Regions from separate parts of the Homo sapiens genome. Here region 2 is linked to region 1. Evidence: fine-mapped expression QTL. A gene starts in region 1. The other region holds a variant in brackets. All regions are shown on one strand. Distances are from middle to middle.

Evidence for each region. PIP is the estimated chance that this variant, and not a neighbour inherited with it, causes the effect.
Region 2: its variant is fine-mapped to the expression of CALCRL-AS1 in esophagus mucosa (GTEx, PIP above 0.99). The same link has a PIP of 0.9 or more in sun-exposed skin.

The regions. Positions count from the first base shown.
Region 1 is chr2:187,001,687-187,004,605 of GRCh38, forward strand. CALCRL-AS1 (CALCRL and TFPI antisense RNA 1) reads left to right here and starts at 1,587. Exons shown (of 6, transcript NR_187179.1): 1 at 1,587-1,679. It also overlaps the pseudogene IMPDH1P7.
Region 2 is chr2:187,545,848-187,548,766 of GRCh38, forward strand. All of the region lies in intron 1 of TFPI (tissue factor pathway inhibitor), which reads right to left. It overlaps CALCRL-AS1 (CALCRL and TFPI antisense RNA 1), which reads left to right. Exons shown (of 6, transcript NR_187179.1): 4 at 882-992; 5 at 1,231-1,316; 6 at 1,636-1,678. Among named protein-coding and RNA genes, the nearest start is that of TFPI, 7.1 kb to the right of the region's middle. RefSeq lists an enhancer at 982-2,181. The variant A/C (reference allele first, on the strand shown) is at 1,788.

The DNA of each region.
Region 1 (2,919 bases):
TTCTGATTCTGCAGGCGATGCCCAGCAAGAGGCTGCAGACCCCTCAGAACTTCCCCTCCTTTCTCCCTGGAAAGGAGCTGGGGAACCTATAGTGCAAGTCTGTGGACCACTCAGTTATGGAGGGAGGCTGTGCCTGAAAGTGGACACTGCGGTATGCCCCTTCCACCACCTTGGCCTCCACTGCTGTCCTCAGTACAGCCGCTTCTCCTAAGAGTGCAGGCCATGGACGCCACCCTTGATCTGGGCCGACATGGTTTGCTTCTCAAAATTCAGTTCTCCTGAGTACATCATGGACTGAAGGACAGACAGGCTGCGGCCCAATATCCTGGCAGCCAGGCTGGATGCCCGCTATGAGGTAGGACACGAACTTATGAATGGATCCTTTGTCCTGGATGGAGCCCAAGACACCCTGCGCGATCTTCACCTTATTCCCCTTGCTGACGTATCATTTCTGGCTGCTGCTGCTCTTCTCCATGGCATCCAGTGAGCCCATGCCCTGGTACTTCTTGAGCCGCACCCCATCTGAGAAGAAATACTCGCCGGGGTCCTACGTGGTGGTGGCCAGCAGGGAGCCCATCATCACTGTGGAGGCTCCAAGGGCCAGGGCCTTAACCACGTGCCCCACGGTCTAGATGCCGCCATCGGCTATGATGGACACACCAAAGCACAGGGCATACTCGGCCACCTTGTACAATGCAGTGCCCTGGGGCCCACCGCAGGCCATCACTTCCTGGGTGATGCAGATGGAGCCGCAGCCCATACCTATGCGCAGCCCGTCCACCGCAGCGTCAATCAGGTTTTTGGCCTGGGCGGCTGTCATCCCAATCACCTGGAGGTGGGGGTACTTCTGTTTGATGTAATGCACCGTGGCAATCTGATACACCGAGTTCCCTTGGGACAAGTCCAAGACTACGACGTCTACCCCCGCCTGGGTGAGCAAGTCCAGGCGGTATTTGTCATCCTCAGGGGTGCCCACAGCTGCCCCACGCAGTAGCTGCTTGTGGGAATCCTTGGAGGCCAGAGGGTAGTCTCTGTTCTTCTTCAGGTCGGTGCAGGTGATCATGGCCACCAGCTCATCGGATCATTGACGAAAGACAGCTTCCCTTTCTTGCTATGCTGCAGGATCTCATTTGCCTCTTTCAACATCAGGCCTGCTGGAGCCAACACTGAGGAGGGTGGTGTGGTCCTCCTCAGCAAGAAAGTTGATGTCTCTGGAGGTGACGATGCCCACCAGCTTGCTGCCTATGGTGCCCGTCTCAGTGATGGGGATGCCAGAGAAGCCATGCCGCATCTTGGCCTCCAACACATCACCCACAGTGTGCGAGGGGGTCAGCACCACCGGGTCCGTGATGAAGCCCTGTTCAAACTTCTTGACCTTCCGCACCTCCTTGGCCTGGAACTCTGGGGTGCAGTTGTGGTGAATGAAACCAATACCTCCCATCAGAGCCATTGCAATGGCTATGTCGGCCTGTCACAGTGTCCGTGGGGGAGGAAATGAGCGGAGTCTTCAGCGTGATCTTCCGGGTCAGGGCTGAGGTCAGGTCCGCCTCATCAGCTATGAAGTCTGTGAATCCTGGGAGAATCAGGAAGTCGTCGTAGGTGAGGCAGTCGGCGCTGGCAAAGAGCTGCTGCGCGGGGAGCCAGTTATCGGGCACATAGTCGGTGCCGCCCCTGATCAGGTAGTCCGTCATGCTGCCGCGAAACCCTGCGACATCCGCGCGCAGCCGCCTGCTGCTGCTGCCCCCGCGCTGCGGCCATGCTGCCGCTGCGAGCCGGGCGGGGCCGCTTCTCTCTCTCTCTCTCTTTTTTTTTTTCTTTTTAAATAATTTTCTCTCTCAGAGTCTGTCTCTCAGGGTCCTCTTTTCCCAGTCCCTCTGGCCAGGAGTCTTCTAAGTTTTCCACACAGTTGCACAGTTCTGTGTTATTGGATATACCCGGGGGATGAAGTAATGAAAGAAAAGACTGAAAATAAAAATGGGAATTCCTTCCACAGTCTTTACACACAGAGGCCCCTAGAGGCCCATTTTCCTGGTTCCTCTGTCCAGAAAGATGGATTTCTAGGGCTTACATTCATGCTGCTGCCTCTACATGCACTGAAGCTGGTCAATGAAGCTGGCCTTGGGGCAGAGGGAGAGAAAAACACATTGGGATTTCACCTTCAACCTCCACTTTCCACCTCTCAGGGTCCCAGTTTCTTAGTACTCTGACAGAAAACCAGGGTTTTCTCAAAGTTTTTGCTGTCTGTTCCCATCACATTGTTCCCTGATTTGGCCCATCCTTAAGCCAAGACCAGATGATCTTGAAGGAAAATATCCTAGGAAACTCACTATTGGCATACTGGTCATTTTTTGAGTTTTGATGTCGCTCCTCAACCTCCTTGCTATTATTTTGTTTCGGAATCATCCTCAGGTAAGTGTTTTAGTATTTTGTCCTGAATTTTTAATTGTAATGAGTGAAAGAGAAAGATTCTAGCAGGCTTACTTCATCTTGGCTGGCACCTGAAGTCCATCCATAGGATATATTTTTAAATTGTTCATGTACTTGGCCACAAAGAAAGTCTCTAAGAGTTGGTAACACACAAAACATGTTCTCTGAAAACATTGCAATAAAATTAGTAAAGAATGCCAAAATGTGCTTTTCCGAATATTTTATAGCTTAAAGCAGAAATCAGATTGCAATTTATAAACTATTTAGATCTGAAAAACAAGAGAAGCACAACTGATAGACTACAACAAAAAGTATACTCACAGGAAAAATGTTAACCTTAAATGTCTGTACTAGGACAAAACAATTGGAAAATTATTAGCTAAATATTTAACTGAGCAATGATTAAGTGAAGAAGTTAGAAAAATAGTAAATCTTAAGAAGGTAGAAAGAAGTAATAATAACAGAAATAAAGGAATTTAGAAAACCAAGCCA
Region 2 (2,919 bases), 540 kb after region 1:
TATGTTTTTGATAGGTAAAAATAATTTTCTCCTACCAAATAACAGGAAATATTAATATTTATTGCCAATTAAGAGAGGAATGTGAGTCCTGGAAGTGGAGAAGTGAAACTGAGAGGCAATAAGGGGGAAGGGGGAGAAGAGATCATTAGAAAATTAAGAACAGGGCAAATGTAAACATGTAAACACATTTCTTAAAATTTGCAATTGAAATCTGAAGAGAATGTGATATACTATAGATCTCCACTACTAAGAATACAACGAACACATTGAAATAAAAAAGAAACACATAATAAAGGAAATAATGCCAATGTTTCTTTTTATAGTAATGAATAGTATTTTAATATGCCTGTTCTATGTATAGTTGTCCATAACTACTAAAACTCTCTAAAAATGAATGGAATTATTTTGTCTGGACTTTATAGTTAAATTTGTAAGTTTTTTTTTTTTTTTTTCAGAAAAAGATTACATTGTTTTCTTTGAATGAATTCACCTTTCTTCATCAAAACTACTGATTTCCATACTAACTAAATTTGTTTAAAAGCAAAGCTCTTTATGGTATGTTATCGTCATTTCCTTAAGAGGGGAAAAAAAACAAATAAAAGTTAGCATTACATATCTGAACCAAACGGAGGTTTTCAAGAATAAAATTCTGCACAACTACAAAACTAGTAGCTCCAAATGAAAGGAAATGGAATAAAAAACGAATGCAAGATAATACAATGAATTTTTGGCATGAGAGGAAAAAAAAAGAATAATATATTAAATGTGTATTTCTCTATTATAATTACCATACATATTAAAAATGAGAATGATATAGAGAGATTGAGAAACCTGTGGCTACTTTTGGCTATTTTACCTGCTTTTTGTATTTGCTCTTCTAGGTACCTGTTATTGAGTGAGATAAGCAAATGGTATTTCAGGACCAAAACATCTGTTTCCTGAAGAGTTGCTCCTTTAATTGTGTATCTACCTACCTGTCTATGTAACTCTTGGTAAATGAATTAATTTGTTAGTTAAAATCAATCTATTAATTCATAATGAATGGGATATCTTGTGGGAGGTACATGTGCTTTGCAAATACATGGAAAGACGAGACTTTCCTAACAGGTTCTGGAATTCAGGTTGATATTACCTTTTTAAAAATTTTTAAGGATTAATAGCTAAAAAGATCAAGTCAGTTTCTTCATTTCTCCTGAAGGCCTGTTTCCATCAGATTTTATCTCTGCCTAGGCAAATACATTGGAGACTTCTCAACTTTCTGCTTCTGATGATCTCAACTTGTGGTATGGCAAAAGGAGAGCAAAATGTTCACCCAGGTATGGGAATTTCTCACAAAAATGTTACTTTATTATATTTAGGGGAAAAAGGGGGCAAAATCTACACTCATAATACCTGAGACTGGATTTCTAGAACCTTTTGGTTTCAGATTTATGATGAATTAGAAAACTTCCTGATTAGAAAAATGTTATAGTTTCAAATATTAGCTAAAATTTTTATCTGTAAGTACAATAAACATGACAAATAATGATCAGTGTTTTCACTCCTATTAAGGAGAGTATTTTTAGTAATAAAAATAAGCCTTAATGTGAAAAAGCTAAGAATTCATGATTGCTTCTAATGACAAGTATCTGGGAGGGGTCTGAGTTTGGTTCAAGAGAGGAACTACAGCTGTTGGTGACTACAACCATCTGCCCAGATGACATCGTGATCAACTCCTCTGAATCACTCTAAAGGAACGAGAAGTCCTGGCAGCTGAGTCATGATCCCCCAGGAGCCATTAAGAAGTT[A/C]ATCTTCAGTCACTTCCATCCAAACAGAAGAAAACCCATGAAGGATGAGAACTATGGGTCCTGAGAATGACAGGTAATTGGTGCCACTTTATTCACAGAATCCAATAAATAGTACTCTTTGATTCACATATTTAATGCTCATTATTGTACATTTTTATAAAGACAAGTTAGTCTAAATTGCCATTCATCTCTTTCTTATCAAAGTCCTACCCAACACATGATCATATCATCAGAAATCAGATATTTTCTTGTTGAATGCCCTACCTAACTCATTCAATTGTAATTTTCTGGGAATGGTGACCAGAGATTTGATATTTTTGGAAGTTACATCAAATCCTCATTACTTTATAAGTGATTTAAAATTTATCACATGGTACACTTTTCATATCTTTCAAAGGATTAATATATAAAAAATATATAGTTAATGCTCAGCTTTAAAGACATTAAAGGACAGAGTTATACAGAAAGAAAGATCCAGAGATCTTTCTTTAATAAAGATATTAAAATTGAATCTGCTTATTCAAGTATAATGATAGAACAGAAAGAGATCTTAAAATTGTTTAATCTCTTCCTTGGCTTTCAAAAATATAAAGTCTTCTTTATTGGAGATTTCTTTATCCATAGAATATCTTAATTCCCCACTCCCCAACTTCCTCCCCATGTGAAGTTTTATCTGTCTTTAAAATATTTGTGTTGTCTTCTTCAGGATATATCATTGATTGGCACTTTTTGATTCTAGTTTTATATACTGTTATCCTTGTATATTAAAGTAGGTCTCAAATATATCTTTCATGGTGGTGTGTAAGGTTCTGAGAGAGCTGGAAAAAAGGTATAAGCTCCCTTCTAAAGTGCAAGTATATACTTGCAGAGATATTTTTTCACTTACATTCTTGGAGATCATCCATGGTCTCCCCATGTCTTTTACAAAAGAGGTTTCCAGCACCTATTAGGGAAGCTAGATGGTCACTTGTATCTTCCTTATCTCTGTATTAGATGATAATATCGAATGCAGGTAAGTGGTGGTGGGGAGAGTAATATTGACAGAATAGTTATATGGCAAACATTGGCACCTCAGAAATTTTTTGCTTTTTTGAGGGCTCTTATTAATATTTGCAAACTTTAAAAAGCCTTG